2 separate regions of the Homo sapiens genome follow, and region 1 is linked to region 2. Evidence: fine-mapped expression QTL. A gene starts in region 2. The other region holds a variant in brackets. All regions are shown on one strand. Distances are between the middles of the regions. Region 1 overlaps HERC3 (HECT and RLD domain containing E3 ubiquitin protein ligase 3). Region 2 holds the start of HERC3 (HECT and RLD domain containing E3 ubiquitin protein ligase 3).

Region 1 (2,910 bases), 120 kb before region 2:
CTTCCCACCTCAATACCTCCAGATTTAGACCATCCACATTTTCCTTCTTAAGACCCGGCTCAGGTCTTATCACCCTCAAGTTCTGAACATTGAAACAAATCCTACTTGGCTACTACTAAAGTTCCAGTGTTAGGCTAGTTCCTCAGCCCCAAATCTACCTTCTTTCTCCCAAGTCTTACTTACCATTATTTACTATTATTTGCCTATTTCCTCTGATGTTCCCTTCAAACTGTTCTTGGCTCTTGCCTAAATATGCCCCAATGTTTGAGCCTTTGCTAAAGCATCCCTCTCCATGAGAAACACCTTTTCGTCCATCCCAACCTTCAAAAACTTCATTCTTCCTTAATGCCATCTGCTCCTTGCCCCTGCTTTCTTCTCCATTTCTGCAGCACTTGGCTCTACTTTCTTATGCAGGAATCAAATCTGACCTTCTATTAGATTATCTGAGTATACGACCTAATGCTTCTACTAAAAGCAAGCTATCCATTCTGCAAGTACAATAAGAAATAGTTTTAAGTTAAAACACCAAATTTATTGCATAATATTGAACTATATGCACACACATAGAAAATAAACATTTCATATAACTGTATATATATTTTTAATCCTGTATTTATAAAGACTGAAAAACTACCAATTTAGCAATTGGAATAAGTTTTAAAAACAAAAAGAAAAAGCAAAAATCTACAATCCTTCATCAAGATTTGATGCTTTATCACAGTTCATAAATACTTCATTTTATATAAATAAGTCTTTTCTCTAGTTACTAGGAATTTAAAATTAGACTTACATGGATTCTTTAATCATGTAGAATTTTCTTACTCCATGATGAGGAAGGTTGAGCATGTCATTATTTTTAAAATACATATATTTGATTTAAACACAATCCCCCCTAAAATCCCACTGTAAACAAACATTTCGAATGTGATAAAGTTTCATAATAAAGAACGTCCTTAAATCTTAGCAATTAGGGAAGAGGAAAAAAAATCTGAGTAAAAATTTTGCAATTTAAATAAAAATTGAAAAAAAGGCTGCATGCATCCACTAGAAGGAGAGGAGAGGAAGGGAGCACTGAGTCAAGTAACAGAGAATGGGATAAAATAAAGAAGAAACGAAAGGAAAATCAGGGAGGAC[A/G]CAGGGTACGAAAAGGAGAAAATAAGGGAAGGGAGGAAGGAGAAAATGGTAGAGGACATAAGGTGATAGAAAAAGGGAAAGTAAATTTATTATTTCTACTTTTCTTGGACAATATAGAGACTCAAAATAGTTAATGCAACTTGCTCCAAAAGCGAGAGTGCAAGAGGTGGTGGGTCTATCAATTAACCTTATTGTCAAAGGGACAAGGATGAGCAAGAAAAAATTAGGCTCAGCTGCAACGAATGCTAAGCTGCTCTGCACATCTTTTAAAAGGTCTAGGAAATAGGCACAGCCATGGGAAAGTTGCTATTCCCTCAAGAACTTTTTAAAAGCAAGATATGTTTATATAGGCTCCCATAAATTCTTAGGAGTTCTGCCAAAATAATGGACCCAGACTCAGCTTTTTGGAATTGGGAGTTTCTGAAGCAGTCCTTTCCTCCTTTGGGTTAAAGGAGGGCTGCAACAAGCCAGAGGCATTTCCAAGTGTACAGAGGAAGGTGATGTTCTCGCATGCGCAGATAAAAAAGGACAGGTCAGTCTAAATCATTCTTATAGAGGAATGAGAAGTTAAGAGAAGGACAAGGAAGCACTGTGAGAAAACATCAGGGCTGAGAGAGACATTTGGGAAATTAAAGTTTAAAAATCCACTGCCATTTCATCCAGCAGAGTGCAACACATTCACAAGTGCAAGGAATACTGGGTAGTTTGGTTTAAAACAAAAACAAAAACACCTCCCATACAAGGGCCAATTTTTCACCCCATCCCCAACCTCTAATTTTTCAAAAAGGTTGTTTACTGCTATACAATCCCAGAAACACATCAACCAGGCTCAGTATTTAAAAGTCCCAACCCACTTAGACAATAAAAAAATAGAAATCACTCCCCATGATTTTCTGTATAGGCCTCAATGTGGACACTGAGGAACGAAGGGAAATACTGGACAAGCTGAGAAGCCTCAGGCCAAACTAAACCCTTCATAGTTGTCAAGGGCCTGGGTCAGCCGGGCACTCAGAATCTCTTTGCTGCTGTACTTGGGGAGGTCAAGAAGGTTGTAGCAAGTGTGGGCCACCGGCAAGTACTCCTCCCCGCTGGCTGTGGACTGGATGACAATCTGCAGACTGGCCATGCCGTAGATGGGAATCCGATCGCTGCCTGTCAGGAACACTGGGGAGAACGAGAAATGGCATTAGCAGCTAAGCAAACGGAAAATGGATCTCAGAGATCCTTCTGGCAACAGGAGAGGAAGGCATGACACCCTGTGGCTTGCATGAGAAGTACAATTACATTTATGTGCCAATATGCATCCTGTGGAATGAAAATTAGATGCCGTTAAGAAAAAAAAAAGGCCTCAATCAAATGTACACCCTCACAAATGTTAGATTTCACAAAATCAAAGAGGGAAGGAATTGCTGTCATAGGAAAAGAGGAGCTGATCTTAAGGGGAAAACAGAAGAAGACTGAAGTCTCTGACCTCAGGGTCTCCTCTCACCTCAAGTGCCTGATGCCTGTACCACCTTGTCTACGGAATTCCATTTAGGATCTATTTGCTCTCCTTTCCACGTCTCCATTTTTCTTAAACCCGAAGAGCTGACCCAAACATTATGTTAGACATTGCACTCTTGTGACATGCACTGTGACTTGGCAAAAGAGAGAGAGGGAGACAGACAGAGAAAGACAGCTCCTTGTTTTCTAGTGCTGAACAACACTCTCATAGTTGAATTGCTGGAAATTACTATAAGAAAATCATTAGTTAAGAAGCACTTTCAAATAACCTGC
Region 2 (2,904 bases):
ACATATTCCGTGCACAGTCGCATTAGGTACTGTCTCCATAGGCTCACCTGTTTCAGGTTACACATGCTCCTCTCGGTCTGGTTGCCCTGGTTTGCCCACTCCACACATTCACAAATGACTCAAGTCTCACCTGCCCCCGGCCGTCCCAGCTCCTGACACCCCCGCGTCGGTCCGCACCGACGTGTCGGCGTACACACACACACACACCCGTACACACGTGTCCGCACACACCCTCGCCCCCGGCCCCGCCCAGGAGGCGGACCCGGGAGAGGCGAGCCGGCCCGGCCTCCGCGAAGTGGGTGGTGCCGGGCCCCGCAGCCCTGCCGGCGCTGTCATCGCGGACGCCGTGCACCGCGTCCTCGGCGCAAACTCCTCGCGGCCGCTGAGGTTCCCCAAAATGCCAGGGCCTCGCCAGCTCCCATTTCAATTGAAAGCGTCCGCGCCCCTCACTGCACGGAGGTCCCTGGAACCCCAGAATTTAAATAGGGGCAGGGGGCGAGCATAGGGACTATCCTCCTTTTGACTTTCTGCGTCGCAATTCCTCCCGGGCGGCAGGGCGGGAGGGCGGCCGAGCGCGGGCGGGAGGCGCTCCCATTTTGAAGGCTTGTCTCGCCTTTCCCGGCGCGGGGCTCTCTGACCGGAGGGCGAGCCCACGAGAACGCCAGGGAGGCGTACGCAGGGTACTAAGGGCGCCGCGCCCCAACCTCCCCGCGCCCCAGACCCAGGTCGTCTCTGGAGGTGCCTGCAGCCCCCGCCGCCGGAGCCACGGGAGGAGCCGCAGCCGCCCCTCCGGGAGCCGCGCGCTGACTGCAGTGCCAGGCGGAACGCGGCCCAGCGCGGCTGCAGCTCCGCCGTACCCCCCTCCCTGGAACCCCGGCCCCCGCCCTGCGCACCTCGGCAGCAGCCGAACCGCAGCTTGGGACTCCGACTGTCACAGCCCCTCTCGCCGGACCCGGGGTTTCTCCGTTTTCGGCGTCACAATAATAAGGAAGTTTCCCCGCAAGCCTGCGGGCGGCGGAATGCGCTGGGTGAATGGCTTCGCACCGGGCCAATGGGCGCCGTTCTGGGATGGGCCCGCGCCAATGGCGGCCGCCGTGGCACGGGCTGGAGGCGGGGCGGCAAGGTCCGCGGGCAGGAGGAGGGGAGAGGCCCAGGCCCCAGAGCCAGGCGCAGGCTGCCCGAGGTGACAGGACTCGAGGGCCCGGCGCGGGGACAGCGGCACGGGTGTGTCAGCCGAAATCGGACTGCAAGACATAGAGCGTTGACGCTGAAATAAGATTGCTTTTCACTGGCGGGGAAGCGAGCTGGACCGATCAGCGGTTGCCTATTCAGGTTCTGGACTCTGGTTTTTATTATTTATGAAGAGGTGACCGAAAGCCTTGGGCACGGGGGAAAAAGCTGGAGGGTGACAATTGAGGGAGAGTGCGCTAGTCTTCTGCTTTACTCCCCTTCGTAGGACTGTAGGAAGCGCGGCGCCGGCCCGCGGCGCTGCGCGGTGGGAGAGGCGGGGAAGGAGGTACGCGGCAGCCGCCGGCGCTCTTCTGGAGAGGTGGGGATCGAAGACCGGCACGGGGCTGCGGAAGAAAGGCGGGCCTGGGGGAGGCTGGAGGGTGGACCCGGGGGGAGCATAGCAAGAAGAGTCTGAGCACCAGATCTTAAAATCTTGTAATCTGAAAGACACTCTGTGGCCTATACCCAGTAACGGATTTTTTAAAAGTTTGTCCTCTTCCACTTTTCCCTAGCGCCGAATCCCAGAGCTTCCTCCCCCTCCCCAAGGTCACTAGTGCTTTCATACTTGCCCTAGACCTGATCTGATCCACAGCTAATCTTTTGCAGAAAACCTCAGAAAGGTGACTTCATGTGTCTGCCCCCCTTAAATGTAAAATGCAGAACACTGGCACGGTACTGCTTTAATCCAAAGGAATAACTCTCCCAGTGGAAGAATTTCTATAACCTGGCATTTGAAGCAGGAAGGCCCTTTGAGGATAGATTCTTACCAAGGACATTCAAATCACCTCAGGTCTGCAATCGCTCGTCCTGAGAACCTAACAGACTGACCAAGTAGAAAAGAAAGTTTCAAGGAGTGGTGTATCCTGGGGATGAGACGTTGTTGGCTGACTGACAGTGTTGAGCCCTCCGTGAAATAATGCAAATTGTCCAGTACACTGAGACAAGAAAGCTAAAAAAGCAGAATCTAAGTTATCAGGTCATCTAAGAAAAAATCCAAACCTTTGAAATTTGGATCACACTTGACACGTTTAGAAACACTGGGGATGGCCAGGCGCGGTGGCCCATGCCTGTAATCTCGGCACTTTGGGAGGCCGAAGCCGGTGGATCACTTGAGGTCAGCAGTTCGAGACCAGCCTGGCCAACATGGTGAAACCTTGTCTCTACAAAAAAAAATACCAAAATTAGCCGAGTAGGGTGGTGTGCGCCTGTAGTCCCAGCTACTCAGGAGGCTGAGGCAGGAGAATCACTGGAACCTGGAAGGCGGAGGTTGCAGTAAGCTGAAATCAAGCCACTGTACTTACTCCAGCCTGGGCAACAGAATGAAACGTTGTCTCAAAAAAAAAAAAAAAAGAAAGAAAAAGGAAAAAAGAAACACTGGGGACAAGAGTAACACAATTCACTTATATTCCAGATATGTGGCAGTTTCACAAAAGTTTAGTCTATTACAAAGATGCAATCCCAATTTAGAGATGCTGTTGGCAAAAGAACTGGTTAAATGCCCAAAGAGGAGTCTGGTAGGAAGACGAAGGAGTCCGGTACTTGCAAAGGAGAAAGTGAGAGATCCTATTGTTAGGTGTCACATATGAGGTTTGTAATCAATCAGTGTTTGGGTTGATATGTCTGGCCCATGGCTCAAGTGTTTTTCTTTTTTTGTTGTTGTTTTTTTGTTTTTTG

The links.
Region 1: its variant is fine-mapped to the expression of HERC3 in whole blood (TOPMed, PIP 0.99).

Annotation. Positions count from the first base shown.
Region 1 is chr4:88,706,140-88,709,049 of GRCh38, reverse strand. It overlaps HERC3 (HECT and RLD domain containing E3 ubiquitin protein ligase 3), which reads right to left. Exons shown (of 26, transcript NM_014606.3): 26 at 511-2,298. The coding sequence ends at 2,090. Among named protein-coding and RNA genes, the nearest start is that of FAM13A-AS1, 2.2 kb to the left of the region's middle. The variant A/G (reference allele first, on the strand shown) is at 1,135.
Region 2 is chr4:88,590,564-88,593,467 of GRCh38, reverse strand. HERC3 (HECT and RLD domain containing E3 ubiquitin protein ligase 3) reads right to left here and starts at 988. Exons shown (of 26, transcript NM_014606.3): 1 at 894-988. RefSeq lists silencers at 1-372, 693-1,252, 1,423-1,482.